Linked DNA regions of Homo sapiens. The protein of the gene in region 5 interacts with the protein of the main gene of each other region in a pairwise test. Each region holds a gene or a part of one and is shown on either strand. Other genes may lie near its edges. The genes, in order: WT1, UBA6, ZNF250, CDC7, HMBOX1, SAP30L and SNRPB2.

The links.
Region 1: the proteins of HMBOX1 (region 5) and WT1 interact in binary tests that used the Homo sapiens proteins (3 or more experiments, as listed by UniProt).
Region 2: the proteins of HMBOX1 (region 5) and UBA6 interact in binary tests that used the Homo sapiens proteins (3 or more experiments, as listed by UniProt).
Region 3: the proteins of HMBOX1 (region 5) and ZNF250 interact in binary tests that used the Homo sapiens proteins (3 or more experiments, as listed by UniProt).
Region 4: the proteins of HMBOX1 (region 5) and CDC7 interact in binary tests that used the Homo sapiens proteins (3 or more experiments, as listed by UniProt).
Region 6: the proteins of HMBOX1 (region 5) and SAP30L interact in binary tests that used the Homo sapiens proteins (3 or more experiments, as listed by UniProt).
Region 7: the proteins of HMBOX1 (region 5) and SNRPB2 interact in binary tests that used the Homo sapiens proteins (3 or more experiments, as listed by UniProt).

What each region holds. Positions count from the first base shown.
Region 1 is NC_000011.10:32,393,602-32,398,056, forward strand, and holds part of WT1 (Wilms tumor protein), read right to left. Parts: intron 2,807-4,455; coding exon 2,656-2,806; intron 1-2,655. UniProt on the Homo sapiens protein: Transcription factor that plays an important role in cellular development and cell survival. Recognizes and binds to the DNA sequence 5'-GCG(T/G)GGGCG-3'. Regulates the expression of numerous target genes, including EPO.
Region 2 is NC_000004.12:67,627,463-67,631,917, forward strand, and holds part of UBA6 (ubiquitin-like modifier-activating enzyme 6), read right to left. Parts: intron 4,447-4,455; coding exon 4,395-4,446; intron 4,310-4,394; coding exon 4,246-4,309; intron 3,074-4,245; coding exon 3,004-3,073; intron 1,681-3,003; coding exon 1,609-1,680; intron 1-1,608. UniProt on the Homo sapiens protein: Activates ubiquitin by first adenylating its C-terminal glycine residue with ATP, and thereafter linking this residue to the side chain of a cysteine residue in E1, yielding a ubiquitin-E1 thioester and free AMP.
Region 3 is NC_000008.11:144,891,062-144,895,516, forward strand, and holds part of ZNF250 (zinc finger protein 250), read right to left. Parts: intron 4,172-4,455; exon of another isoform or gene 4,082-4,171; intron 1-4,081. UniProt on the Homo sapiens protein: May be involved in transcriptional regulation.
Region 4 is NC_000001.11:91,506,992-91,511,446, reverse strand, and holds part of CDC7 (cell division cycle 7-related protein kinase), read right to left. Parts: intron 3,594-4,455; coding exon 3,510-3,593; intron 3,186-3,509; coding exon 3,050-3,185; intron 1-3,049. UniProt on the Homo sapiens protein: Kinase involved in initiation of DNA replication. Phosphorylates critical substrates that regulate the G1/S phase transition and initiation of DNA replication, such as MCM proteins and CLASPIN.
Region 5 is NC_000008.11:28,966,537-28,970,991, forward strand, and holds part of HMBOX1 (homeobox-containing protein 1), read left to right. Parts: intron 1-3,506; coding exon 3,507-3,983; intron 3,984-4,455. UniProt on the Homo sapiens protein: Binds directly to 5'-TTAGGG-3' repeats in telomeric DNA. Associates with the telomerase complex at sites of active telomere processing and positively regulates telomere elongation.
Region 6 is NC_000005.10:154,448,704-154,453,158, reverse strand, and holds part of SAP30L (histone deacetylase complex subunit SAP30L), read right to left. Parts: intron 2,069-4,455; coding exon 1,946-2,068; intron 704-1,945; coding exon of another isoform or gene 686-703; exon of another isoform or gene 660-685; intron 1-659.
Region 7 is NC_000020.11:16,735,756-16,740,210, reverse strand, and holds part of SNRPB2 (U2 small nuclear ribonucleoprotein B''), read right to left. Parts: intron 2,951-4,455; coding exon 2,810-2,950; intron 1,360-2,809; coding exon 1,309-1,359; intron 1-1,308. UniProt on the Homo sapiens protein: Involved in pre-mRNA splicing as component of the spliceosome. Associated with sn-RNP U2, where it contributes to the binding of stem loop IV of U2 snRNA.

The DNA.
Region 1 (4,455 bases), on a different chromosome or scaffold from region 5:
TGGGCTATTTCCCTCATGAATCTCTATTCCCCACTATGCCAGAGCTCACATCCTGAAGTCCTCCTTGCACTCTGCTCACACTAAATGTCCCCCATCCCTATCTCCACATCGAAAAGTCTCCTGGGTGTCTCCTTCTTCTGCAATGCCTGCTTGGAAACTGCATGGGCCAATTTCCCTTCCTTCCCTCATTACGACATTTATTCCAGGCTGTCTAATGTGGTGAGCTGTGTCTGGGTCTACAATTCTACAATTCTTCAATGGGTTGGAAAATCCTAAGGGCTGGAGCCTTTTTATTTTTATTTTTTCTCAGAGACAGAGTCTCTCTCTGTTGCCCAGACTAAAGCGCAGTGGTGTGAGCCTAGCTCACTGCAGCCTCGAAACCGTGGGCACAAGCAATCCTCCTACCTCAGCCTCCTGAGTAGCTGGGACTACAGGCATACACCAGCACACTTGGCTAAATTTTTAAAAATATTTTTTTTAGAGACAGGGTCTCACTATATTGCCCAGGCTGGTCTTGAACCCCTTAAGCAATCCTCCCGCCTACGCCTCCCAACATACTGGGATTACAGGTGTGAGCCACTGCACCTGGCCCCTTTCTTTGTATTTGTATCCAGGTTGGTGCCTTATGTTTCACCTCTGTGAGCTGGAGAAGATGTTACCCCTATTGAGTCTGATTTCCTTCCCCTGCCTTTGAGCTTCTGCTCATCTATCACTTTCTCTGCCCAAACTACCAGCCTCCACTGGCTAACCCAAGCTGTTCTTCCTCTGAGAAACTTTCTCGGATGACCTTAGTTCAAACTGATACCCTCCAAACCCCTCGGTACCTCCTGTCTCTGATTTAGTACATGATCATGTACTCTCTCAGTCACTTTTCATTTCTTTATATCCTAGCTCCCAAACAAACCAGGAACTCTTTGAGAAGGAGGATTATAACCTGCAGTTAAAAAGAAGGAGTTTGAGTCCTCTTTCTGCTATATCCTATACTCTTCATAAATGTTTTGTGAGTGAGGATTAAATGAAATATACATGTAGAGAGCCTGACACCCAAAAAGTACTTAATATAACAGTCTGTACTGTTGTTATAAATAAATAAGAAAATATTGCTCTCTTTCAAGGGGGACTGTAGGATTGTTAAATACCAACCTGCCCTCATCTTCTGCAAGGAAGAGTTTCTTAAAGGCTCCAGTGGGTCTGGGGTTTTGGCTGTCTTGTTCACTGCCTTCCCTTCACACAGTTGTCTAACCCTCACTGCATTCTAAGTGCTTCTCTCTCACTAAAAGTTTCTACAACCATATTGCCTTCATTTATTCCCTTGCATTTTTCAGGCAGGACTTTACTTTCTCGTTTTCCTTATAACCTTGACAGTCACTTTTCAAATGATCCCATTTGGGGAAATGTGTAAAAACATAACATGCCACTGGTCCCCTCCTTTTTAGCCTCAAAGTCTGTGGCCCACTGAGTGCAAACTCAGATTGACACCAGAATTGCATCCTCTGGACACAGTGAATTAGCAAATTTCAATGGTCCAAGGAAATCTGAATGCAGCTCACTTTTTTCTCCAGCTTCCCAAGAGCAAAATCAGCAGTAATAACACAGTTGCAACAGTGATCCTATAATAATGCTGTTCTTCGATTGTGGAAAAGGCAGCAGTAGCTCCTCTGTAGGAAAACCTGGGTTTTACCACACTCCCACACTCCCACCTAGTGCCCACAAGGCCCAGAGTAAACGTTCTGTGACATGGCTGTCCACATTCAAGGTGGCCAACACCAAACAATGCCAGTTCTCTGTTTCCCAGAAGCAGCCTCTCTGACCTGGGGGAAAATCCAGTTTCATTGGCGTATCTTCAAAGATAAAAAATCATCATCTCTCTCTCTCCTTTTTTTTTTTTTTGGCAGAGTCTTGCTCTGTCGCCCAGGCTGGAGTACAGTGGTAAGATCTCAGCTCACTGCAACCTCTGCCTCCTAGGTTCAAGCAATTCTCCTGCCCCAGCCTCCCAAGTACAGGTGCGTGCCACCACACCCGGCTCATTTTTGTATTTTTAGTAGAGACGGGGTTTCACCTTGTTGGCCAGGCTGGTCTCCAACTCCTGACCTTGGGTGATCCACCCACTTCGGCCTCCCAAAGTGCTGGGATTACAGGCGTGAGCCCCCATGACTGACCTTTTTTTTTTAAGTGATCACTAAAAAATCAAACTAACAATCAATTTTCCCCTTCCTGTCTAGTTGATTATTACTGACCCAAGCAGGTAAGTTTTTCTTTGGACCATCTCTTCTAAAATTTCACAATGATCTTGCCCATCGACCTCCTAAAACCATCTGATGACTATATTCCCAGGCCAGCTCCTCTCTCCTTAGAAATGCTAATAGTATTCTAACACCAACACGATTCCTACACAGGTCTCTTTAATTCTGTGGCACTTTCTCTCTACCACTCTGCTCTGCCTTTCTGGAAGACAGTTTACTGACCTCTGTAATAAAGGATAGATAATCAGAATGCAAAATGGCCCCACAGCCTCTTTACAACACCTGGATCAGACCTTTCAAAGCAGTGCTTACTTTCCATCCTGGAAATAACCTGGGTCCTTAGCAGTGTGAGAGCCTGGAAAAGGAGCTCTTGAACCATGTTTGCCCAAGACTGGACAGCGGGCACACTTACCAGTGTGCTTCCTGCTGTGCATCTGTAAGTGGGACAGCTTAAAATATCTCTTATTGCAGCCTGGGTAAGCACACATGAAGGGGCGTTTCTCACTGGTCTCAGATGCCGACCGTACAAGAGTCGGGGCTACTCCAGGCACACGTCGCACATCCTGCAGGCAGAGAGTAAGAGGAAGGGAGGCTTTAAGCCACATGTGAACATTCACGTAGGTCTTGAGGGAGAGTGAGCACTGGAGTATATCCAAAGAAGGGGTGGCAGGTGCAGACCTAAAACCACTCCCATTCACACTCCAGATCCCCATGGCAGACATCAGTAATGGATGCTAGATCAGGACATTCTACAATGCAGTGCTCTAAGATCATCACTACTGAGCAACCAGAAGTGGCTGTTGAGATGAAACCTACATGAAATGGCTGTCCCAGAGCCTCTGCAAAAGAAATGCTGGTACCTGGAAGAGCTCCCAATCCATTCTATCTCTCAGCTTCTCCTCTTGAGGTAGTGATGTCTGCAAGTCCAAAGTCCCAAAGTCTAACTACTCCCTCCCACTTGGAGTCATGACCACATGACCTAGAGCCAGTCTGCAATGGGTGGGGACATCCTTATTAGAAAAAAGTGGGATAATGAATGAGCCCCTAACTGACCAGATCGTCCAAGTATAAGTAAATAACAAGGAAGAAGAAGCCCCTGGATTTGGGGATCCCATCTGTGAAAGGAAGCAAAACCCACCAGAAGGCCATGGTGAAGCCAGCACAACCTTTAATAGTGAGGCCAGAAAGCACTGGAATCCATCTGCCTTCTGTGCTCTGCACACGTCCTTTGCAGGGCATCTGTTGCTCCCCTTTATCTTGTGGAAGTGCAGTGTGTGTGTTGTCAGTCTTCCAAGAATAAGAACTGGAGGAAAACAAAGAGGCAAGCTCCCCTTCCTCTTCTTGGGGTCAGGGAGTCATAAATGGGAGCTGAGCAAGTGCCTGAGTGGCCACTAAATTCTCCTCATTCCTTTATAGATGAGTAAATCAACCCCAAAGGCGGTGAGATGCTGACACAAGAGTGCATCCATGTTTTGGTTTTGTTTGTTCTTAAGACAGGATCTTATTCTGTTGTCCAGGCTGGAGTGCAGTGGCACGATCGGGGCTCCTGCAGCCTCGACCTCACCAGCTTAAGTAATCCTCCCACTTCAGCCTCCTGAACAGCTGGGACAACAGGTGAGAGTCATCATGCCCAGCTAATTTTTTTTTTTTTTTTTGGTAGAGATAGGGTCTCCCTATGTTGCTCAGGCTGGTCTCAAACTCTTGAGCTGAAGGGATCCTTCCACCTTGGCCTCCTAGAGTGCTGGGATTACAGGTGTGAGCCACCATGCCTGGCCTAAAGTGCATCCATGTTTTGTGCTAAGACCTGGAACCACTTCTGAATATAACCAACTCCTTGCCCTGTGCATTTTCCACTCTACCCCATGCTTATGTTCTAGTCCCTATTTCACATTGCCCTGCACTGAAAGGTCATTTTCTTTTTTGGAAGAATAAATGCTGCAGTGACATACAACACAACATTGATGTTAATAGGCCATAGTGTCTCAGGGATAATGAAGGCATAAAATTAAATGGTGAGCCAGCTGTTGGATTGGAATACTCAATACCTGTCTGGTCTGGAGTGTTTTAGAGGCCATGGCAAGTGAGCCTGACAAACTGGGCTTGATGGGAAAGAAAGCAAAGGAAGCATTTTCCATTTCCCTTAATTCATCCTAGAAGCAGTGCACATGGGAACAGGAGTTGTTAATCTCAGTAAGGGTCCCGGTGAAGGATT
Region 2 (4,455 bases), on a different chromosome or scaffold from region 5:
GAAGCAATGCAAGCCAGAAAACATACCGAAGCAAGAGCAATAACGGAAAGTAAAGTTAAAGCATTTTTCCTTGGCTTCTCTCTAGTTTTGCCCTTGGAAACATGGGCTGGGAACCTTCTTTGGGATTTCTGTTTATCCTCACCCTATTTTTATTCTTTATAGGCTATAAGTCATAAACATTGTGTTCTGCAAATCCATCTACCTGGGCAAAATCAACTGCCCTACAAGTCTTTTTTTTTTTTCCTAAAATAAAAACGCAGAACGAAAGACTGCACACGTCACTTCTTTCTTGAATTTTGCAGGGAGGTGGTCATTACTCCACCTTTTCTGGTATAGCTAAATTTTGTGGATGATTTTTAGAGAACATACAAGAAAGGCATATACTGAACATGTAAAAAAGAAAAAAAAGTTTTCAAACTTTTTTATTTACATTGCCTAAATTTCATGTTCCATCTTTACCAATACTCCCTATTGCTTTTTTTTTTTTTTTTCAATGTATTTGCCTGGCAAAATCCCAACCCTAGTTATATCCAATTTTCCATCCATTATACAGTATAATACCACCCAAGCAGCTAAATTCTGGCTGGAGAAAAGATCATTACCCTTTCTCCAGCCACATTTAGTAGGATACATTAAGCAGATTAACATTAAGTGGATCTTCAGTATTGTCTTGCGTTTTACTACATCTTTTAATTAAGTGACTCTTCCACTTCACTGGACAATTATTTCATACCTTCTTTTCTTTGCTCTTACTTCCTTTATCTTCTTATCCCCTTCACTCTGAGCTACTAAGCTAGCTTCTTATTTCAACTAAGAAAATATTCTTTCTTTATCATAGCCCCAACTATCTCTGTAATTTCCTCATTTAAGACTCTTCCCCTTGTATATTCTCTTCTAGACGAGTCCTGACCTTAAAAGCTTTTCAAGGCCTTTCTCTGCACTTATTTCTGCTGCCTACATTGCTCTTTCACTATTCCTTTACTTCCTTCAGGTTTCTGCTAAAATGTTACTGTTATCAGAGGTTTTCCTCACTTCCATCCCATATAAAATTATACCAGCTCCATCACTCTTTCTTTTCCCTGTTGTATTTTTCCTTCTTAGCACTTACACTCACACTGCAATATTATGTACTTATTAGCATTTTTGTTTATAGTCCCTCTCCGCCCAAAATACATTGGTCCAATGTATTTTATACATTCCTTCAGAAGGTATTATTATGTTATTCATGTATGTATTTTATTATCTATCTTCTCACAAAGGCATGTAAGCTCTATAACAACAGGGGATCTTTATGTATCTTGTTCACTGACAGAACTCCAATATATCTAATTTTTAATACCCACAATGATATAGTGGGCATAAAAAAATATTAACTGAGTAGCTCATACAATCTAAGTCTATACTGATCTTTTTTAAAATTCCACACTAGAATAAAATTAGTATTAATCAACAGTTTGTGATTCTGACAAATCTACTTCAAACTCAAGTTGCACTGACAAGAGCAAGAGCAAGAACCATTCATTGTGATATTCTCCAGGTTTAGAATGGGACTTGGTACAAGTCCAAATTCCCAAACTATTTGCTGAATGAATGATTTTTTAAACATACCTTATTGGAAGGCTTGAATTCCTGAATCTTTACTTCTGAAAGAATATTCAAGAGGGCATCTGCTGATAAGTCCTGTTTTTAAAAAAGTAATTTTACCAACAAACATATTCTTCTAAATTCTAAAGCTAAAAATATCCTACAAAAGGTCCTTAATCATATTACAATATATGAATATTTCATTATCTGAATATGTAGACATCCATTTGAGACATTTATCTTTATTTCTATAAAAATATCCCCCCATAAAGGTTATGGGGGAGGAGAAGGTAAGGGGTAAAAAAGTACTTATTAGTCAACAAACTTGAAATTTTAGTCCTTCTGCAAATTTTTTAAAAGGCATTTTTAGGACTGGTTGTAAATATAAAACTGAGTGACTTGATCAGTCAGTTTTAATTCCCTTAGCTTTATGTTTTATGTTTTTAATGTTTTACAAAGTTCCCTGAAGTAAGTTATACTCAATAAGTAAAATAAGTAAATGGAATTCATACCTTAAGAAGGAGGGAGATATTTAAATGGTTAAAGATGAACTTATATGAATTTAAAGCTATGGGTTGTATTTACATTTGTCATTGAGAAGTTGCTTGGCAAAGGCTGAGACTTAGTGCTTTTGAGGTCAATTACCACACTCACCACTAAATTACCACTGATTTTCCCAAAAAGAATATCAGACTGAATGCCACTATTTTTACCAAATATTTACAGTTTATTTGTATGAATTCCAAAAAGGATTAATCTAAAACAGATATTGTTATCTGAATCCAAAACAGCCAGTGTTAATTATGGGATCTGATTCATGTTTCTCTATTTAGCCCACCTAAAAGTACAGCAATTTACTTAGCTAGAATATGCATTTGTGAAGAAAAGAGATGCCTCTCAAAACCGTATGAGGCTCTTTAGATGTTAGTCAATGAAGATGATGTTTAAGAGAATGAGTATGATGCTAAAGTAAGAAATGTCAATATAAGGGAGCATTTTCAGATTTCCTGAAAAGCACATAAATTATCACAAAATAACAAACAAATGTTAACAAAGAAAATCTCTACGCAGTATTTCAAAATTGCGATGAAATGGTTTGCTGTGGCTTTTTAGAATAACTAGGATAACTGAAGCTGCTAAGCAGGTTATAAATATTCTTAAAACAAAGTTTAACTGCTTTTAACAAATAATGCTGTTTCACTGCTTCAATTCAGAAGGAAAAATCCGACTTCTACTTAGCAATACTGCAATGAGCTTTTAGCTTCCATTATGTTAGTATGGGTAAAAATACAATAAAAATTCTGTATCAAAAAGAGTGATTCTTATAACAAACAAACATGTTTTGATGCAATTAGTGCATCAGTCATCTAATTCTAATTTGGTTTTGCATCACTTGCTAAGGCTTAAAGAATATCTTACCTCTTCTGCAAATGGAATACAATATACTGTAGCATATAGTTTTGCAGCATTCTGAAGGAAACTGAGGTGCCTTTTGAAATTAAAAAATAAAGCAAAATTTGAATGTACAGTTTTAAAGACGATATTTAACTCATTATGAACTATAGCCTTTAAATGTAGTTTGAAGAAATATAACCACAGAATTATTATTTCAAGTTTTTTTTTTTAAGTTAGACAAAAATATTCTGGTCTACACCAAAACACTACAGAAGTTATAAAAGACAAAACATCAAACAGTTATTCTCAAAAACACTTAACATTCAGGTAGTGATCATGACTACCTTGGGAAGAGGAGTGAGTGGACAGAACCAGAAAACTCAGACCAGTGAACAATAATTCATTTTAAGTCATAAGAAATATTATACATTTGGTCTTAATGAGTATATATCAAGTTCAAACTAAGTAAATGTGTTTATTTAAAAACAAAAAAAGAAAGTCTTATAGAAGAAGCAGTCCAGCATAAGGTGACTGGAAGCCTAAAACCACCACCAGATGAGAAAATTAAGCATAGAGTTATCTGCTGAAAGGAAGGTTAGTGAATGCAAGCTAAGTGTTTAAAAATATATATACATAAGGTTGGGTGTGGTGGTATGCACCTGTAATCCCAGCTACTTGGGAAGCTGAGGTGCGAGGATTGCTTGAGCCTAGGAGTTCAAGACCAGGCTGGGCCACATATGTGAGACCTTGTCTCTTTCAAAGAATAAAAACTAAATTAAAAAAATAGAAAAAATATACATATACACACAAGTGTGAATCTAATGTGTATCTAATATAGTGTTTCCAGGTATTCACACAAAGACCAACTCCTCTGAAAATAATTTGAGATTTAGGGAGTTATTCAGTAGTAATTATTTGTTCCTCCATATAACTGAAGATTCTTATATTTGATTTCATTAAATGTAAAAACACATTGTCATTTTACTAATTTATGGATAAAGTAAAAAAGGTGATTTTGGTTTCACCTTAGATATTTATTATAAATAATGAGGTTATTTACCATGTAAATGAATGGATTCACATTTGTGTGGGAAGGGTTGTGGCTGGCTTTCTTGGTCAGAATGACTTGTTAACTCTTAAATGAACAGGGATGAAATAATTTAACATTAAAGAGCCTAAGGTTTTCACTCTGCAATGTACAGTTAAGGAATTTACAGTAAAGAAATATATAATGAAGGATACATAAAACTAAATATAAATACTTACAAAGGCTCATTTAAATCAAATTTTATTGGAGAGGGTGGCCTCTTTGGTGACTGCCAAAATAAACCTGGCAAAAAGATACAAATATCATTTTCAATGTATGTAGCCAGTAATAAATGTCATTAAAATTTATTCTCAACATTTATACTTACTGCCATCTTTTAATCGTATGTCCAGAGGGAAACAGTGAAGAAGCTGAAGAGCCTAAAGAAA
Region 3 (4,455 bases), about 120 Mb from region 5:
GGGGCTGGTGCTGGAACGTAACAGGACAAGGTAAGCAAAGGTATCTGACACACACCCAAACAGCTGGGAAAAAGGGGGAGCGGGGCAAGAGCTTTCCTGACACATTTGGTCCTGTACAGGATAGGGTTCGCAGTCTTCTGGAGCATCAAAAAGAAGATACTGTGACAGGGATACAGAAACCAACCAGGTGACCAAAGGTGGTAGATCACTCCAGAAAAACGTGGTATAACAAAGCAACCAATCCCCTCACATGCTTGGCTCAGATGGGCACCACAACAAACAGGGTGCTTTAAGAGTGACAAAATAGGTGTCAGGGCTGGGGGCAGAAGTCAAGGGACATCATAATCTCAGTGTCTATAAAACATCAGATATAGGTGGGCGCGGTGGCTCATACCTGTAATCTCAGCACTTTGGGAGGGTGAGGCAGGCACATCACCGGAGGTCAGGAGTTTGAGACCAGCCTGGCCAACATGGTGAAACCCCGTCTCTACTAAAAATACAAAAATCAGGCCGGGTGCAGTGGCTTATGCCTGTAATCCCAGCACTTTGGGAGGCCGAGGCAGGCGGATCACCCGAGGTTGGGAGTTCGAGACCAGCCATGACCAACATGGGGAAACCCCGTCTCTACTAAAAACACAAAATTAGCCGGGTGTGGTGGTGCACGCCTGTAGTCCCAGCTACTCAGGAGGCTGAGGCAAGAGAATTGCTTGAACTCAGGAGGTGGAGGATGCGATGAGCCGAGATCATGCCATTGCACTCCAGCCTGGGCAACCAAGAGCAAAACTCCATCTCAAAACAAAAACAAAAACAAAAATCAGCTGGGTGTGGTGGCGGGTGCCTGTAATCCCAACTACTCAGGAGGCTAAGGCAGGAGAATCACTTGAACCCAGGATGTGGAGGTTGCAGTGAGCTGAGATCATCTCAGCTGAGACTCTGTCTCAAAACAAAACAAAAAAAACACACATCAGATACATGTATATATTTGCACAGACAACTTTCAGGAAGATACACAATAAACTAACTGCCTGCCTCTGAAGAACAGGACAGGGAAACACAGTTGGAGAGAGACTGACTTTCAACCCTCCCCCGTGCTGCTGTTCTCCAAAAATGCCCATTCCCTCCAAATGTGTGTGTGAGCACACTTCTGTGTTAGCGCAATGCAACTCTAATTAGAATTCCAACAGAAGTCTTTTAAAGGAATGACTACAACTACTTGAGAATTCATAAGAAGAATGGATGCTAGAGAATAGCCAAGAATTTAACTGGAAAGAACAGAGGGTGGGGACTGCCTTGCCAGGAATCAGAGCCAAGGGTGGGTAGGAAGCCGCTGCAATTAAACCAACAAGTTGTTGACAGAGGAACAGATGAAGCCAGACAGGTATGTGGGAAATTGGAAGATAACAAAAATGTTACATTTTAGTTCAGCAGGAAATCAGTGGTTCCTTTAGTAACTTGTGTGTACCCAGATGGGATACATCAATAACCAATTTTTTTGTTTGTTTTTTTTTTTGAGACAGAGTTTCACTCTTGTTGCCCAGGCTGGAATGCAACGGCGAGATCTCGGCTCACCGCAACCTCCACCTCCTGGGTTCAAGTGATTCTCCTGTCTCAGCCTCCCAAGTAGCTGGGATTACAGGCATGCGCCACCATGCCCAGCTAATTTTTTTTGTATTTTTAGTAGGGACAGGGTTTCTCCATGTTGGTCAGGCTGGTCTTGAACTCCCGACCTCAGGTGATCCGCCCGCCTTGGCCTCCCAAAGTGCTGGGATTACAGGCGTGAGCCACCGTGTCCAGCCACCAATTTTTTTTTTTTTTTGAGACGAAGTCTTGCTCTGTCACCCAGGCTGGGATGCAATGGGGTGATCTTGGCTCACCGCAACCCCTGCCTCCCAGGTTCAAGCAATTCTCCTGCCTCAGCCTCCCGAGTAGCTGGGATTACAAGCACCCACCAGCACGCTCGGCTAATTTTTTAAATATTTTTAGTAGAGATGGGTTTTCACCATCTTGGTCAGGCTGGTCTCGAACTCCCGACCTCAGGTGATCCACCCGCCTTGGCCTCCCAAAGTGCTGGGATTACAGGCATGAGCCACCACGCCCAGCCCAACAATAACCAATTTTGGATTAAGATGAAGACCAAGTGTGAGCATTAACAGTGGCCTCATGTGCTCCTGGTCCCCCTGTCTGACATCTGCCTACCCTCAAGGGCAGAAGTGCCTTCTCTCCTGCCACACCCTGACCCTTTCCATGGGTCACCCACCAGCGCACAGATCTGCCATTTCTTTATTTTGAAACAGAATCTCGCTCTGTCACCCAGGCTGGAGTGCAGTGGCATGATCTAGGCTCACTGCAACCTCCGTCTCCCAGGCTCAAGCGATCCTCCTACCTTAGCCTCCTGAGTAGCTGGGACTACAGACACCTGCCTCCATGCCCGGCTAATTTTTGTACTTTTTGTAGGTACGGGGTTTCACCATGTTGCCCAGGCTGGTCTCGAACCCCTGAGCTCAAGTGATATGCCCCTCTTGGCCTCCTAGAGTGCTGGAATTACAGGCTTGAGTCACTGCGCCTAGCCCTGCATGCGAATTTGACCTTGGGTGAATGCACAGCTCTGGTCCCCTGGAAACCTGGCAGAGGTGGATGGTCATTCTCTCTACGGACCAATCACACCTGGGCTGTGACTCAATGATGAACAACCACAGGAAGTACATTCAGGGCCTCCCTAGCAGGTCTTGCAGCCAGTTCTCTTGACACAGGAGGTGCTGGCTTGTATGACCACGAGGCTTTCGACTAGGCTAACTCCTCCTCCTACCTGCATCTTGTGTTTATGCACCTCAGTACTCCCTGGATGGCTGCTGGATGATGCTGGCCAGCTTTTCCGAGAAGCTGCTGCTAGGCATGGTTGTCCTGTGAGTCTGAAAAGTCAGTTGAGCCCAGTAGCTCTTTTGGTACACTTGAGCTCGTGATCCCCCTTCCCTCTGACTCAACCTTTCAATATGGGTGTCTCATAGCATCTCAGACATTTAACATCCCAAACCAAGCACCCCCTCTACCATCATTTCTACCCCCAGCTTGGTCTGTGAGCCTGTGCATCAGCCTCCTTCCTTCTTCACTCCCACACTTCTATTCACCTTCCAAGCACATCCAGAACCTGACCATGTTGCCCATCTCGCCCTCCCTGCCCCATGACAACCACCCCTAGATGTTCGGCAGCTCCCATCTGGGCAGACAGACTCCCAGCACCGTCTGTCTGCCCAGCCCCTCCATCTACCTTCCTGTGAGAACACAGTGACTGTCCTCTGCTCCAAGGTCCTCCCAGGACCCCACTGGCTCCTATGGGCATGCCCCAAACTTTGTGATTTTCCTCAGAGCCCTGCAGCCCTTTATCCCTTGGCCTGTGCTCCCCATCCAACTCTTAGAGACCTCTGCCCCACCCACCGCAGCAGCCCTGGCCTCACCCAGCTCTCATCCTATCCCTTTCTCCTGCACCAGCAGACCAAGAAGCAGGCCCAACAGAGTAATCAGTGGTCGACCTTTTTTTTTTTTTTTTAATTACTTCTAGGCTAATGATTACAAATTGCCAGGCAATGTACTTTTTTAAACTTTTAATTAATTTCTTAGAGACGGGGTCTCACTTTGTAGTCCAGGCTGGAGTACAGTGGCTCAATCACAGCTCAATGCAGCCTCCAACTCCTGGGCTCAGGTGATCCTCCCACTTCAGCATCCCAAGTAGCTAGGAATACAGGTTGCACCACCATGCCTGGATAATTTCTTAATTTTTTTTTTTTGGTAGAGACGAGGTCTTGCTGTGTTGCCCAGACTGGTCTTGAACTCCTAGGCTCAAGGGATCCTCCCTCCTTGGCCTCCGAAAGTGTCAAGATTACAGGCCTGAGAACACCACACCCGGCCTGTTTGTTGAATAAATGAATGAAGAGGAATGAGCTCACACTTTATGCCATCTGTAATAGCCAAGTACGGAGTCAACACTTTAAACTGGCAGGCATGGGAAAGTGGAGTTTCTCATACTCTTAAGAAGGCGACCTAGCAGTATTTAGGCAAATCAGACTGGCCCTTGGATAGTGGGTACCTGATAAGAATGGATGTGGGTGAGGGTGCAGATTCAAGGATGTTGCTGAGGCAAATGCTACGTTGGTCCTTCCACATACAAGTTACACACCTGCTAAAGAGAAAGATGTATGTTGTGTCAGGTCACCAGATGGGTGAGTGAAAATGCAGCATGGGGCCAGCATGCAGGGGAAAATCTCATTTTGTAAACTATGACCCCGAGCCCATGAAGGGTATGTGTGTCACAAGGACCTGGGACTGGTTCACCTGCCTCACTTGGGCCAGCTGCATTGAGGCCCCACCTATAAATCCAGATGACACACTCCTCTGAAGGCCTGGAGATCATGTGGTTGGTGAGAGGAGAGCGCTAAGAACAGGCTTGGCTCAGAGGAGGAT
Region 4 (4,455 bases), on a different chromosome or scaffold from region 5:
TTGTGTTCTCGTGTTAAAGTTTTCTTTTAAAACAAAAATGGCACCAGTTTTGAAGTTACTATAATAATTCAAACGAGGTAATTATAGTTGTGACTGGGGAAGCAGCAGAATGAGAAAAAAGGGAAAAGATTAATAAGACTTAGCAGATAAGATGGTAACAGTAATAAATAAATCAAGGTCACTAAACTAATAGATCAATGAGCCAGGATTTGAACCCAGGCATTTTGCTCCAGATATATGTTCTTAATCACTATGTTACACTGCTTCATAAAAGAGGAAAATAGGACAAAGGTGATTTCTATGATTTTGAGCCTGAGTAAGAAAACAATAGAGATACCAAAAAATGAGTAGAGAAGCCAGTAAAAGAAGCATCTAAAACCAGACCTCATCATTTTGATAGAGTTATCTAGACAAGGGACTAAGCCTTAAGTGAGAAGACAAGTGAGAAGTCAGTGAGAGTACCTGCAGAGAAGTGATACCTACAGACATGAAAATTAATAGCGAGAAAAGAAAACTGAGCTTGGAAGAAGCCAAGTTAGAGAGCCAAATAAGAAAGGAATTTTGAAGGAAGAGTTATTAGCATGGAAGTCAAAGAGAATAACAACTGAGGGAAGGCTTTTAGTTAGGCAAAGAATAATTAACTGGTAATTTTTAAGACAGCAATTTAAGTGGAAAGGAAGAAACAAAACAGAAGGAAGGAAAATATAACACAATGGAAGCTGAGCCTGAAGACAATTTGCCTGACTGCATTGTAAGATCAGATGAAGGCATTTTTAGCATGTACTTTTTTAAGCACAGAAAAAGAAAAAGTGGTAGAGGGAGACAGTTAAAAATATAGAAAAAGAAATGATCATATTTAGGGTACAAGAATGTATGCAAGCATTCTTTATAGAGGCCATCTCATTTTCTTGTCTTCTATAATACACAGAAGGCTGAAACAAACAGGCTTATTCATTCATTCAGTATTTAGTTGGCACTGTTATTTGCTGTTAGGGATTATAGACATTAGTGATGCAATAGTGAATAAAATTTACAGAATTTCTGTCCTCATGGAGTTTACTATCTAGTGGACAATACAGATAATAACAAGGTAACTTATAATGACAGAATACGATAAGGGCTTTGAAAGAAATCTAAAGATGCTATGACAATAAAAAAAAATAGGAGAATCTAATTTAATTCAGAGAAGACATCTTTCAAGCAATGTCACTCTTTTTTTTTTTTCTCAGAGGCAGGGTCTTGTTTTGTTGACCAGGCTGGATGGAGTGCAATGGAGTGATCGCAGGTCATTACAGCCTCAAACTCCTGGGCTCAAGCGATCCTCCTACCTCAGCCTCCCAAGTAGCTGGGACTACAGATGTGTGCCACCTTGCCTGGATAATTTTTAAGTTTTTTGTAAAGATGGGTTCTTGCTAGGTTGCCCAGGCAGGTCTCAAACTCCTGGCCTCAAGCAATCCTCCCAAAGTGCTGGGATTACAAGCATGAACTACTGCGTCCAGTTTCACTCTTGCTCAGATCAGAAGATGAAGGGTCAGCAAGCAATGACTGGGAGAGGTCTTCCTGAATGGGGAAACAGTCTGGGCAGTGGCCCTGAGGTAAGAAAGCTCTTGAGACAAATTTGATAAACTAAAGAAATGGAGCACAGTGAGGGAGGTGGGAAGATAGGCATGAGAAGGTTGAATTTTTTTTTCAAAGTACATAGGGAAACCACTGAAAGATTTTAAGTGGTGGAACTAATGACCCAATTTAAGTTATATACATATATATTTTATATTTTAAAGATCATTCTGGCTGCTGTGTAAAGACAGAATTAAGGGGAGAAGGAAGAAGCAGGCTACAGTCGTAGTCTAGGCTTCATCTGAGGTAGTGGCAGAGAAGACAGAAAGACATGGATGAACTTCTAGATATACTTTAGAGCCAAAATGGCTAGGACTTAGTGATTAATGTGGTTTAGGAGAGAAATAGAGAAAATGAGGATGATTTCTAGGTTTCTGGCCCAAACAAGTGTGTAGATGGGCCATTTGCAGAGACGGGTGGATAAGAACATTTGTTGTGGTGTTTTTTTTTTTTTTTTTGGTATGTTAAGGTTTAGGTTTGTCTTTTAGGTTTGAGATATTTATCAGGCACCAAGTGGAAATGTTAAATAGGCAGGTGGATATACACAAACCTGTAGTTAAGATAAAAGGTCTGAGATTAACTATATACTTTTGGGAATCATTACTTTAGATCATGTGGAAATGGAGGACACTAAGAATACAGAGAAACCTAAGAGCAAGCACGAGGAACTCCAATATTTAGGGGTCAGATAGAAGTGGAAGAGCTAGCAAAGACACTGAAAATGAAAGGCCAAATGAGGGAAGAAGAAAACAAGGAGGGTGTGGCAGGACAGAAGTCAAGACAAGGGTTCACGTCAATTGTGTTAAATGATGCCTAGAGTAATGATTGACTCTATAGTTTCCAGTTTAGCATAGAGAAGAACAGCCGCAATAGGTATTTAGTGAAAGAGAGGTGTGGAATGAAAACAATGTATGCAGATAATTTTTGAGAAGTCTGGCTGTAAGGGGGAACAAAGAAATGATGGAGCAGGTGGAAGAAGGAGGGCAGTTTAGGAGGGTAAGATTCTAAATCATGTCCATATGTTGACAGAAATGACCTAGCAGAGAGAAACCATACCAGATGATTCTGTTATTCTAAATAAAATATTAGATGAGGTCGTCAATAGCTGGGGAAATGTGAAATGTGAGTTCCCTACATTTACAAAATAATGTAAACCATGAAAGCCAAGGTTTATGATTTGGCAGGAAGGTTACAAAAAGCAGTGATAAAAGACAGGAAATCAGGTCGAGCCTCAAGGGAAATCCAATCTAAAAGAATTACTATAAATTTAACTAACTATTGCAAGGTTAGAAGGAAAGTGCTAGCAAATTGCAAACACTTGACTGAAAAATGTATTTAATTCACATATAATCCCCTCATCCCTGCTAAATATCTACTTTAAAATCTTATAAATTATATACAAGTTCAATTAAAATATGTTTAAATTGCCTACCCAGCCACTGTTAGGCACTGAAGTTCAGCTGCAATTCTTATAGGATGACTTGTTGGAATCAAGTGTTTTAGAGCAATTTTCTCTTCAGGTCCTACTTGTAACTGTGCTGTGGCCAAATAAACAGAGCTGAAAGTGCCTGTAAAACAATTTATTAAATTTTTCAATATCTGGTTTTTAAAAATGTTAATGAAACAATTCTAAGATAGATTGTAAAAACTGTTTCAATGGCATAATACATTAAAACAGGACTTCATTTTACAGTAAATATTTATTATTTATTCTTTCTTTAAGGTTGAAAAAGAAAAGCTGTTACCATAATTAGTAATAAAACTATGGTCTTAATAGTCTAAAAAGTGGTATATTTTTCAATAAGAAATAGTAATGAAAACCAAGACTAAAAAAGGAAAATAGAATGGAAAAAAGACCTCGTAAAAATAGTAAAAGCATATCCCCAGATTACCTTCTCCAATTTTGTCCTCAATCTTAAACACATTACTAAGCTGTGGTACAGCTTCATAAAGCTTCTCAATATCTTTTTTAACACCTTTCAAGGAAACAAAAATTTAGAGTTTTAATCAATGACAGTATATTTTACAGTTTCTTAAAATTTAAAAAGCTCAATGAAATAAATTATAAAATATGAGTAATTAATTATACATAAGTTTTAATAACATTGTGATAAGATTAAAACCCATCAAGTTGCTATAACTCACACACACCTCTTGAACAGACAAAAATGACAGTCCCAGAATTAAATACACCAAATTTCTACTATACTGGAATTATATACTAAGAGATACATTGTTACTGTAGAGATTACAACATGAAAAAGCACCAAATTTTTAAAATAACTAAACAATTTGTGCTGTGATCACTAGATGGCATGACAAGGACACATTGCGATGTTCTTGAAAACTATTTCCCGTAAAGATACAAAATCTTAAAGGCTTGGTAAAATTTTATGTATTAAATATTCACACTATATTTTCAGAGAGAAGGCCTACTAAAGCTCTCAAGCATGTAAAAAAGTATTTTTAAAAATTTGTCCCAATTGCCAGTAGTATCCTCTATCCTTGACTGCAGATAAATTGCTACTTTTAAATAAGTATCAGTTCTTTATAAAAATGTACATAGTTAAAACAAGGGGAGGCAATAATACAAAACCCAGTAAACTACTGGATACAGAAGAGAACTAGATAAGTCTTCAGATTTTATTACAGTATCTAGGCTCTACTAGCCCTATATAGCATAAGTTTAAGACATTTTCAAAGCACCGGCACATGCAGTATCTTTTGAGGTCTTCCTAACAGTACTGTGAACTTGGCAGAGCAGGAATGATTATCCTGATTTTTCAGATAAGGAAACTCAATTCAGGGAGGTTAAATCATTTGCCCAATTTCACAGAG
Region 5 (4,455 bases):
TTAGATGACCTTTGTAGGTCATTTACTGCCATAAATTCGTGATTATATGCTTAAACTAGGTAAATTATGAGAAATAAAATTGTGAAATGCCGGAGTATATGCCTTTGTTTATATTAATACACATTGGAACATTATTCTCAATATCCAGGAGAGCTTCTAGACTCAGCGTTTTCTCAGTAAAATATTGTATCTTCAGTGTCACATGCATGCTTTGATCCTGTTTGTTATGCTCTTAATCACTTTGCTTTGTAGTGATCATATGAATGATCATTCTAGCAATTGTGGATCATTTTGCTTTAGGTTATATTTGCATTAGGAAACTCTCAGTGCAGGGCACAGACATCTAATTTGAACAAGGTGATACATAAAGGGAAATGTATTCTCTGATGAAACAAAACAGCAAGAAGAGCAGGGATATATCAGGGGCTTAGGGATTATTGGAACAAGGGATGTGAGTGCTGCAGAGCTTTCTCCATCGCTCTGTTCCACGTTTCTTGGTATGTCTGCTTCTTCCTCCCATGAACTAGCTGCTTCCATATAATGAGGAATTTACCAGACTAATATCTTCCTGCAACTGAACACAGTTATGGTGACTGTTCATCTTTCCCCTCGTCTGACTAGAAAATTATGGGGAGAGCAAGGTTTGGCTTTCTTCTGTGCTCACCCCACTGGCCAGAAGGTGGGGTATTACGAGTGATAGCCCAAGAACATGTGCTTGGAAAGAATGAGGTGTTCTAAGCAGACAAAGTAAATAGGTGGCCTATTGTTTCTCCTTTTATGACTTGGAATAAAAGTGGTTCTAATAGTCAATGAATCTGAAATGACACAAAATATTAGATTGTTTCATATGCTGTGAAATCTTTAGTTTTGACAATTCTAATTCAAGTGTTAGGATGGATACTTTTCAGTAATAAGTGAAATTCATACAATTTACTTTTGCTTTATGCTAATACAGAGTGCTGCTCCATACAAGGAATGGTTTGAAGAACTGTATATAGATAACTAACTGCTCTGATATGAATACTATAGGAAAATACTATGATTGGGGATTTTTGTCCATATAATAAAACAGTTATTGAAGTCATCTAAAGTAAGATCACTTTATGAAATACTTTGATAACATGAAGACTGAAAATAGCAACAAACAGGTCTACTTCATTTTCAAGGGAAAATAATAATGTTTATGTTTAATTTTTTTCATTACAAAATATTGTGGGGGAACTTAGGCCATCAAGAAAGAATATAATAATCATGAAAATAGGTCTTTTTAAAATCATGGCTAACTTGTTACAAGTGAGTATTGGAAGAAATCAGACCCTAACATTTGTAGGTGTAGAGCAGATACTGTGGCCCATGGGCACAAATGGCCTGCAACATGTTTAGGTCCACAGAATGTGTGTGTTTGGTTTTGTTTTATTTTTATGAGCTTGTTTTAAAAACCAGGAAGATTTCATCTACAGTTCTAGATTTTTCCCTACTTATTTTTAAAAGGATTTGAAAGATAAAACAATCAGTGAAATGGAATAGACTATCCAAAGGTAATGCAGATTCATATGGAAATTGTGTATATGATAAAGGCAGCATTTCACATCGGAGGAGAAGACAGATATTCAGTAAAAACATACGACATCTAGCTGTCCATTTGGGATGAAATAAAGCCCCAATTTTTTATACTTGTTAAGTCAATAAAAATTCTAGATGGAGCAAGGATTTTAAATGTAGAAAACTATTACTAGGACCCCTAGGTTCATCAGTAATTAGAATAGTTTTATCTAAATGGCTTTAAATGAGACTTAAAGGAGTAGAATAGCCTGTGTGCCAAATCATATGTTTCCAGTTAAGTCCTGCAATGTATTGTAAAGGAGAATGATGTGTGCTTTTGGAGTCAATAAGATCTAGGCTTAAATCTTTTTCCTACTGTTTACTCAGATTTTTTGTGAAGTACAAAACTACACTGAGCTTTAGTTTCCTCAACAATCAATCCATCAACATAAAATGAAATGAATAAAGAACATCTACCATGGGGAGTTGCTGTGAGAATTGGATGAGATTATGTTATGTGAAATTCGTACCCAGTTCCTGCCTAGAAGTGACTGTTAATAAAGTTTTCATGTAGAAGGACAAAGAAACAGTGAGACCTTCAATAGCTATAGGACACTGGCCCAGAGCAGATGTTTGTTTGAGAAAGATGAAGAAATTTCTTGACATCTGTTTCCATCTGCAAACACTTATTGAGAGCCTACTGCATGCCATGCATTATATTTGGCACTAGAACAATAAATATCAAAATAGAAGAGATTACAACTTTAAAAAATCTTGAATGGAAAACTCAGGTCTTATAAGAAAGGAATTCAAGGCCGAGCATGGTGGCTCACACCTGTAATCCCAGCACTTTGGGAGGCCGAGGCGGGCGAATCACCTGAGGTCAGGAGTTTGAGATCAGCCTGGCCAACATGTTGAAACCCCATCTCTACTAAAAATATAAAAGTAGCCAGGCTTGGTGGCAGGTGCCTGTAATCCCAGCTACTCAGGAGGTTGAGGCAGGAGAATCGCTTGCACCCAGGAGGTGGAGGTTGCAGTGAGCCAAGACTGCGCCACTGCACTCCAGCCTGGTTGACAAGAGCAAAACTCTGTATCCAAAACAACAACAACAACAACAACAAAGGGATTCAAGCAGTGAGAATTTTTATAGTATTTGACTACTCCCTTAATATTGTTACTCACCCTAAGAAAACATTTTCTGATGTGCTGTAGTATCTTGTGCTAGTTAAAGGAAACATGTAAAAGTAATTTCCTAAGAAAAATGAATAGCATTGTTTGGCTACAACCATGAAAGATCTATTTCTCAGGGTAGCTATTAAGAGAGAATGCATTACCAGAGATGGAAAACTTAGGAAATTGCTAAGTAGTGAATGAAATGGTGCTTATTTTTTTTTTTAATGTACCTCTGTTTTCCACTTAAGTATTTTTGCTGGTTATTAGCATTTGCTTGGACTTAGCTTAGCAAATCATTTGTTCTCACTAAATGAGGTTGTAGAGAATTCCTAGGTCTGTTTAGCTAATATTTGGTAAATAATATAATACAAACTATTTTTTTCAGTAATTTTCCATTAATACTCTAATGTAGAGTAATACACTTGAGATGGGCAAAACACTTCTGAGTTATCACGTAGCCTGGGCTTATTGCACTCCATGTACCTAATCTATTGTTCTGGTATTATTTACATAACTAAAATTTTGGTTCTGATATTTACCAAAATTGAGGAAAATGTAAATTGTATGCCATATGAAATTAGGTTTTATGTTACACCTATGTTCACCTACTAATACATTTAGTATCTGTACCAATCCATTTGCCATGGCACAATCATTCTAGCATGGGACATACCTTCATTTTCAATACAGAAGCTTATGTAGAAATATTGCATCTTCTGAGCATTCTGTATAATATGTGCTTTGGTAGATACTGTCAATAAAGAGACTTCTTTTTATCTCTTTTTTTTTAGTTTGCTGGAAACCATGTCTCATTATACAGATGAACCCAGATTTACCATAGAGCAGATAGATCTGCTTCAGCGACTTCGGCGTACTGGAATGACTAAACATGAAATTCTCCATGCCTTGGAAACTTTGGACCGTCTTGATCAAGAGCATAGTGACAAGTTTGGAAGAAGGTCCAGCTATGGAGGAAGTTCATATGGGAATAGTACTAACAATGTCCCAGCATCTTCCTCTACAGCTACAGCTTCCACACAGACGCAGCATTCGGGAATGTCCCCGTCACCTAGCAACAGTTATGATACTTCCCCACAGCCTTGCACTACCAATCAAAATGGGAGGGAGAATAATGAGCGATTATCTACATCCAATGGAAAGATGTCACCAACTCGCTACCATGCAAACAGCATGGGTCAGAGGTCATACAGTTTTGAAGCCTCAGAAGAGGACCTAGATGTAGATGATAAAGTGGAAGAATTAATGAGGTTAGTGACTTTGCTTATTCAGAGTCCCTAAAAATGTCTGTATTCTTAGATTGTTTTTAAGTAGTATGCTGCGTTTCAGCTACTTAGCTATAAGAACTGTAACTTCCTCTAGCTATAAGAACTGTAACTTCCTCCTCCCACCTTTGGAGATGAAAGAAAGAAAGTTCAAGCTTTATGTTTTTAATTTAAATTTTCTCTTCTTTACTTCAGCCCTTTCTCTTTGCTGCTTGACAAGCCTTTTCCATTCTGTTTATCAAACACTAATCTTCTCTATGACTCTAATAGCTAATTTCTGACTAACAGACACATTCTAATCCTTAAAAATCTGTTGTAAGTACTTTTTCTGAGGGATAATTTTATCTTGATCAGAATATGTACACTCTTAATTTTTCTGTTCAACATTCCAATCAAGAAAATAATTTGGGGTACCTATTATATAGGTTCTAATTTTAGCAATAGATGACACACACAC
Region 6 (4,455 bases), on a different chromosome or scaffold from region 5:
AAGGAGGAGCAGGGTCTGATAAAGCACTGAGAAACGGTAGGGAATAGGGGAAAAGATCACAGCACAGAGAGCTGGGAGAGGCACAGATGGGCAAGGGGGTCACAGGCAACTGTGATGAATTTAAAAGGTGAGAATGGATGGTAGCACATCCAGAAAAACAGAAGGAGCTATCACAGAGGGTGGAGGGCGATGGCGCAGGATGGGTCTGGTGGTGGTTGTTGGGAAGACTGATGGGGGGATACGGAGGGAGATGCTATAGCAACAATCAGAATGAGATGAAGAGGCTGAGCTTTGGAGGGGCAGTGATGCTAGAAGGGACACCAAAGATGGAGAGCAAAGGCAAAAACCAGAGACATCCTGGAGGATGATAGGCCAGAACGAGGCAGCGACCGGATAGAGGAGCACAAAGGAGGGCTGTTATCCTCAAATAGCTCTTTGCTAGGCCCAGCCTTCTGGTATTAGAATCCTTAACCTCCCTCCAGAGAAAGTTCAAAAGTTACTGTAGTGAATGTGCAATCCAGCAGGTTAGGGCTGGGGTCTTTGCAGATGACTGGATAACAGAGGGGAAGGGACCCCCCCTTTTTGTTTCTAACAAAGGAAGAGAGGAAAGCTGCATAGTCATGAAAAATTGAAGGCCCATAAAGTTGGGCTGCCTTTACCTGCCTCTAAAAGAGCTGTTCTTGCTTCAGGCAGGTGGAGAGCACTTAAAAACAAAATGAATGATCAATATGAGGGGCCAAAGTCCTTCATTCTTTTTCAAAACATTCCTCAAAACCTTTTTTTTTTTTTTTTTGGTGAAAACCACTTAGAAATCGAATACGTCCATTTCTTTGTAAAATAACAATAACGTTAAAGGCAAAAGCAAGATTCTGTAAACCAACATTGGAAAAGGGGACACAGGGAGGGGCAGAGGGAAAGGGCCAGATTTTCAACGGTTTCCTCCACATCTGCAGACAAAGGCCCGCCTACTCTTTCTATTCCTACACAGTCATTTTCACTCTGAGTGCTAACAGGCGGTTGCCTTATGAAATATTCATGTGTCAAATATTCAATGTACACTATAAACGGTTCTTCTCTTGCTGAGTCTTGAGTGAAAACAATTTAGTAGAAAGAAAATCCAATATTCCTTCCTGAAGCCTCACTTAATAGACACGGGCACCTGAAGGGAAGGCAGCCTTCCAGTTTGAGAAGCCTAGGTCTCATGGTCTAGCGCAGTGGTTCTCAACACAGGACGATTTTGTCTTGTAAAGGAGGTGTGGCAATGTCTGGAGACACGTTTTGATTGTCATGACTCAGGGTGGTGATGGGTAGAATCTCACGAGGGGATGCTGCTGAGGCATGCTGTTAAATATCCTACAATGCAGAGGACAGTCCCCACAACAAAAATTAGCTGACCCCAAATGTCAACAGTGCTAGAGTTGAGAAAACCGGGTCCAGTTTAGTCAACTTTGAAATGGATCCTTGGGAACAGCCTGGACTAGATGTCAAGAAATCAGTGAGAGAAAATCAGAGCTGGTATGAACTGATGACTTACACCTTCATTTTTTGGGGAAAAGACTTCTCCCAAACCATTATACACTCTCTAAAGGCATAAACAAGGTTTAAAAAAAAGTGACACTGTGGTTGTATTTACGCATTCGTCAGGGGCGTCTTGCAGAAAAGCAGTGTGGTCTACTGGAAAGGGCCCTAGACTAGAGCCTCCAAACTATATACATGACCTCGGCTCTCTGTGCCTGTCTGTAAAATGATGGGGCAGTCTGACCAGTGGGTGTCCAAGCTTTTAGCTCTCAGATTCCATATTACTATAATTCACTTTTCAAATAATCCACAGCAAAACAAAAGGACTAAAATTACTTCTTAACACAAAAAGCAGACCAGGCCAGAGGTGAGAATCAGATTAGAATCCATTCTTCCAGCTTCCGCAACTGGTTTCTTTGACCTTTACCTCAGGAATGTCAGTGTCGTGCTCGGGAGAATCTCCGCCATCGTCACTTGTCTTCCTCTTCCTTTTATTTCGGACACTCTGGATGAAATTTTTGTGAAAATCACAGATATATAGGTGCCTTACCTGATGGAGACAAAAATCAAAGTCAGAGTTGGCCAATTCCTTGGAGACAGCAATAGGTATCTGTCGAATTGCGGGGCTTCCTTCCATTGCAGGGCATTGGAGAGATAGATGGAAGACAAGATGTAGGCCATCATTCCCAGAAGCTCACTACTGAGTTGCAGAACACAAAGAGAATGCTAACATCACACTTGGCAGCGTATCATACACCAAACTTCCAGTGAATGGTGAAGACAGTAAATGGTACAGATTCAGCAAAGGAAGAGATCCCTGCAACAGAGATGCTCAGGGTGAAGGGCCCTGACTAAAAGGGAGGACTTTAGGCAGACAGGAAGCATTCCAGATGGGTAGGAGTGCCAAGACTTTAGAGTTTCCAATGGAGGATGACAGAAAGAGTGAGGAGGCCCAGGGTACAGTGTCAGTTGGGTGATGATGGCTGCCCATGTAGGAGCATAATGAAAAAGTGAGGCATCAGGGGGGTGGGCATGAGAACAGCTTAGACTTTCCTTCCGACAAGACAGAGTCCCTCAAGGAAGCAGGAAGTGATGTGACATTTTTAGAAGACCTGTAGGAGTCATAAACTTATAGTCGACTGGAATGTACTGTCCTGGGGAGGAGGAAAGCAGGACACAAGGGACTGTTGCAACGGTATTTGGGACACTCTATTTTTACAATTACAATAGCTACTATTGTAGGATAATAACTCTTTGAAAAACTTTGTTTCTATGTGTCAATTTATAATTCTTGCATTATCTCACATCTGATCCACAAAGAAAAGTGGAAAAAGATGTGGAAGTTCTTACAAGGTAGAACCACATACAAGAAGGTGGATACTACAGATTTTCTAATACAGGCTGGAGGCACACTGGTAAGTGAAGGTGGCAGCAACAGCTAAGACATGAAGAATCCTCCAAGGCTGGCTGGAGGAACCACTGAAAAACTTTACAGAAACTGAATGCCCAGCAAATGACTTGGGGTTGTTGATACTGAAACAGCTGTTGCACAAATGTTCTGCAGAGACTTCTGAATTTGAGTTTATTCCTTAAATCCTTAAAGATAAAAGTAAGCTGGCAGGAAATCCGCATCAATTAATTCAGACCTTTTCATGGAGAAAATAATGAAAACTGTTTATTTATTTATTCAGATGAATGATCACTTTCATGTGGCTGGATTAGTGAGTCATAAGTACTTTTAAGTTTATACTGTGATGGTGTCTTGCAGACAGGAGGTACTCGAAAAATGTTGATGTACCAATATAGGAAGTCTCCTATATCTAAAAGTGGCTTAAGGCTAATGAAAGCCACCACTTAACATGGTTACAAACTGGGATAGCTTTGTCAGATTCAACTCTGTCAAAGGACTTTCAAACACAGCACATGCCACTGTCCCAAAGAATCCCACCTAGCTGATGTATATACTACTGGACATGCTTTTCTCCAGGAAGAAAGCACAACAAAGCACACTCTGCATCCCTGAGAGGAAGCTAGCCCTCCATGTTAGCTAGACTGGCGAGTCCACTCAGATCAACTGCTCCTCAAGTTCACAGTAACAAACTTCATAGGAGAACAGGGAGAATAGGTGGCTTCCTAAAGCTTTGGCTGGGAGATTTCAGATCAGGACAATAGAATAACGGAATCCTAGCTGTAAGAGAACTTAGCAATCACTAGTGCAATCCCATTGACCCCAATCCGTTTTCTAAATGGGTAAAATGAAGCCATCCAGAGTGAGGAAATGACCTGGCCAAGGTCACCCAGGCCTTCTGCCCCCCCAGTACATGTCTTTTCCTACTCCAGCATTTTCCTTTATACTATTCTCAACTTCCACTTTTCTCCAGGAAAAAAAAAGCAGAAATATGTCAACTGGAGGTATATTAGTATTTTAACAGATCACAGAACACTGCCAAAGTCTATATAAAATGAGTTAAACAGCCTGAATTGAATTTCTGGTGTTGTTATTTAAAAAGGTTCTCTGCTAGACTCTCTTACAAGATAAATAATCATTTTCTCCTTAACCATTTTCAAGTACATACTGGTTTTCAGAAATTTCAGAGCTCAGTGGCCTTTGGGAGTGGGGTTGGGGCAGGAGGGTGGTAGCAAAGGCTCTAGTTTTTTTTTTTCCTTCACTTTCTGCAATAGCTAAAAATTCTTGTAACATACCAGTTACCTGGAATTGAATTCCTGCCCAAGCCTGTGAGAAAGAAATAGAATCCCTTTCAGAAATAATGACTCCACAACACCACCTTAAAACAAATTTTGAGTGATTCCACCTGGAAACCTTACTACCTCAGAAGTATTACATTTTGGGAACACTAATGCTAGGCTCAGGCTGCCCTTCTTCTAGACAGTGTGTGTGAAATGATCAGCATAGCTCAACACAGGTTTTCCAGTACA
Region 7 (4,455 bases), on a different chromosome or scaffold from region 5:
AATAAATCAAAACCTTACAGTAACTAAGCAAGGCAGACATTCAAGTAAAGACACTGAAAGTCTGGAAAATTACAAATCTCTTAAGTGTTTAACAGTATATGAAACAATTATGTTTTAAGCTTCTGGAGGTGAGTCGTGATTGGAGAATTTTGTCACCTGGATAACATAATCAAAGATCTTAATAAAATTAGAGATGGCCAGCAATGTCACCCCTCCGTAGCTGGTTACCACACTCAGTATCACTCAGATACTCAATTCCTCTGTACTGTTACTACTTCCCAGCATACTAAAAAAAAAAAAAAAAATTGGAACTAGAAAGATTACCACCGAGAACCACTGCTTAGGGACTTTTAATTTACTTATTTTTGGCAAATAAATGAGATATACACAGCATCTAGTTACATACAAACAAGCAGTAACAAACACTTAGTTTATTAGATATTACTCATTTGATATCCCACCCAGAGGTTATGGGGAACTAAAGAAAGGGTCTTCTATATAAGAAAAGAGCTCTGTCTTCCTGCTACTGTCATAAAAGAGAAAAGAGCAAGTATAAAAAATAATTAGTGAACAACTCAAGGCTTAGAGGATTAAGTGCTGGCATTTGTGAACTGGACTATAAATGCTGAGGAGATAAAAAACCCAAGTAACTTAAAACAAGAGGAGAAAAACCTCAGTGGTACAGAGAATTCTATGGATTTAAGGATCTTGCCAGACCCCGCCATCTGGAAAAAAAAAAGTATGAAACCATCAGCACATTACTGAGGCCTTCTCTTTGAGGTATGTCATGGGGAGATTTAATACGGAGTTTCTAAAACATTTGTACAAGGAGGCTTAAAAAAAAAAGGCTGGAATTTATTTGTGTTCAGGAAGTGAGAGCAAAGGTTAACTATAAAACTATGTGCCCAAAGAGTGTAACACTGTAGTGTTTCAACCAACTGGAATGGAAGAGAGCCCCTGACCCTGCCAGTTACCCTTACCCATGCAACTGTGTAAAGCTTTAGGTACTGTAGAGGAAACCAAAATGTTTGCTCCCAGCCCTTAGAGTTTAAAGTCTGTCATTTTGATTCTGTCATTGATTCATTATGGAAAACAAGAAATAAAGTCAGGTGTCGTTTTCTCTCTCTAAAAAAGAATTAAAATGTTCTTCAGGAGTTGAGTTCTTACATTGCAGTGGCAGACAATTTAACGCACTGTGTCTTGTAGATGAAATCATTTTGTTTTTGGAGACATGGAAATTGTTTTATACCACTGCTGTAATTTTTACAATCTTATTTTAAGGTAAGCACGACATGGAAAAAAAATTACCTGAGGATTTGGTGTTGAATTTCCTTGGGTATTAGCTGAATTTGGAGTTCCCTAAGCAAAATAAATAGGGAGAGTTTAAATATCCAATCCCTCCAAAAACGCAGCAGGTATTTATATTTATAATTACTGCATTAAAAATAACATTAATTCCAAGAGATATCCTTCTTACTCCATTTAATTTTACTTTAAGAATTTATATCTTAACACTGACTCAAACACTCATGTTCTTAATTTGTCGGTTATTTTTGTTAAGACCAGCCCTAAACTTTAAATAGTATATTATAAAATTTAACCTCTTAGCTTTAAAATTATGGAGAAATATATAAGAGAAAACCAAGGCCTAGTCTTACTTTTAAAAACAACTGGACATAAGTCATTTAATAAAACTGACTTTTAATCACTTTCAATCCAGAAGTAATTACTTTTTGGTGAATTTCACTTTTTTTTTTTTTTTTTTTTGAGATGGAGTCTTGCTCTTGTCACCCAGGCTGGAGTGCAATGGCATAATCTTGCCTCAATGCAACCTCTGCCTCCCAGGTTCAACCAATTCTCCTGCTTCAAGCCTCCTGAGTAGCTGGGATTACAGGCATCCACCACCACGGCCAGGTAATTTTTTGTATTTTTAGTAGAGACGGGGTATCACCATGTTGGCCAGGCTGGTCTTGAACTCCTGACCTCAGGTGATCCACCCACCTCAGCCTCCCAAAGTGCTGGGATTATAGGCATGAGCCACCATGGCGCCAAGCAGTTCATTTCACTTTTATCTGGTATTTCAAATTATATTTTGCATTACTGAATTGTTCAAAGAAAGACACTGTTTTTTTTGTTTGTTTTTTGGGTTTTTTTTTTTCTTTTTTTTTTTTTGAGACAGAGTCTCACTCTGTTGCCCAGGCTGGAGTTCAGTGGCACAATCTCGGCTCACTGCAAGCTCCACCTCCCAGGTTCATGCTATTCTCCTGCCTCAGCCCCCAGAGTAGCTGGGACTACAGGCACCCACCACCAAGCCCAGCTAAATTTTTTTTGTATTTTTAGTAGAGACGGGGTTTCACCGTGTTAGCCAGGATGGTCTCGATCTCCTGACTTCGTGATCCTCCTGCCTCGGCCTCCCAAAGTGCTGGAATTACAGGCAAGAGCCACTGCGCCCAGCCAGAAAGATACTTTGAGTGAAGTACTCATGATTAAAGATAATAACTACAGTATTATTTATAGGCAGCAAAACTTGAGAAATAAACCAAAAGGTATTAACATATTTTAAACAATGATCGAATTAAATGCCATGCAAATATAAAACTGCTTAATATAAATCTCCATGTTAAGGTTTATATTTTGTTTCTTAATACTGAATTTTATAAGTCAACCATTCTAGCTTCTTAAAACCACCTTTTAAACACACATTTATGCACATATACAGACAAGCCTAAGATCATTCCTTACCTGTAAGACAAGCATCTATCAAGTTTTTAACACCAATACAAACAGGAACTTTCTTGGTCTTTCTTACCTGGCCAGGCTTTTTGTTTGTGGTTGTTGCAGTCTGTTCCACAGTTTTGGCTTTTTTCTTTTCTTTTTTCTTTTCTTTGTCAGCAAAAGTTCCACGCATTTTTGATATTATATCCGAATCTGTTTTTGCATACTGTATTCGCTGTTTTAATTATTTGAAAACAGGTTACTTCTCATGCTGAAGGATGTTTACACTAGTCATTAATATTTCAAATTTCATTACGCAAATACACTACAAGCTAATTTTAAACATATCCCTAAGAAAATCTGTCAGAATATACTGAGTGCCAAATGGAAGTAAACTGTGGGCTATAATTCATAATTTAGACAAAGTTAGATTCAAGTGTGTTTATTAGATTAAAAAAACATATATTTTCATGTGAGAAACACAGGACTTTGAAATATCTGTACCACGGCTTCTCTCCATTTAATCAAAGAATAGAGAAAACTGCATTGAAGTGTTAAAGGAACAAATGAGTGGGCTCCACCAGCGGGCTTTGGAATCCTGAACTGTTCAAATCTCCTCAGTGCCTGAGGATCTGGCTCAAGATCAGCTATTCTAATCCAGAGGTATTCAACAAACAACATATAAAACAAACAAAAGCAAAACTGCTCAGCTTGACATAGAACTGTGGCTCCAGAGCCCACTGGAGGCCAAATGCCCTTTCCTCTCCAAACCTACCCTCACCCCACAGTCACAGAGGGAGCACCTAGGGATGCAATTTGAGGGAGCTGGTGAAAAATAAAGAAAATCGCCATTCTAGACTAATCCTGTTTTACAGATAGAATAGGCCCACAGAACACTAGGGCTGGTTTGGCAGAGTCCCCACAGAACAACTTTTCTGGCAGAAAACTAGATGGAAAATTTCTTTTAAACCATTTTTAATGAGTTTATTTGAATTTTTTTTCATTTTTTAGAATTCTAAACATCATAAATGTGAGGATTTAAATAAAACTTTTTTGCATCGTAACTTTTTGGATGTACAGCTCTGAGTTGTAACATTTGTAAAGATTAATGTATCTACCACCACAATCAGGACACAGGGCAGTTCTATCACCTAAAAATCCCCTCATGCTTCCCCTTTGTTACCCCACCCCTCCTCTTCCAAACACTCATCTGTTCTCTGTCCCTGCTGCCCTTTCCAGAATGTCACATAGATAGGATCATACATGATATAACCTGGAGGCTGCCTTCCTTTACTTGGCATAATGTCTTTGAGATTCATCTATGCCGTTGCTTTTAACAGCGAGTAGTATTTCATCGTATTGATGTACCAATTTGATTTACATCATTCAATGAAGGATACTTGGTTTGTTTACAGTTTTTGGCGATTAGGAATAAAGCTGCTATAAGCACGTGTGTTTAAAAAAACAGACACACACAGAACAAAAACAACAACAACAAAAATGCATTGGAGAGTTGCCTTCCCCTTACCAGTGACTCTCAATAGAAGCATTGACATGTGTCGCAGCTGTGGAATGTGTCATATGGAATGTTACTTCCAATAGTTAAAAGTACAGAAGACTGGGAATGACTTTCCTTTGAATCTATCACCTTTACATGAAATGACTTTAACAGTGGAATCAACTTACTAAATTTTAAAATGTTTTAAAAGGAAACAAAAGAATGGAATCACAGATAATGTG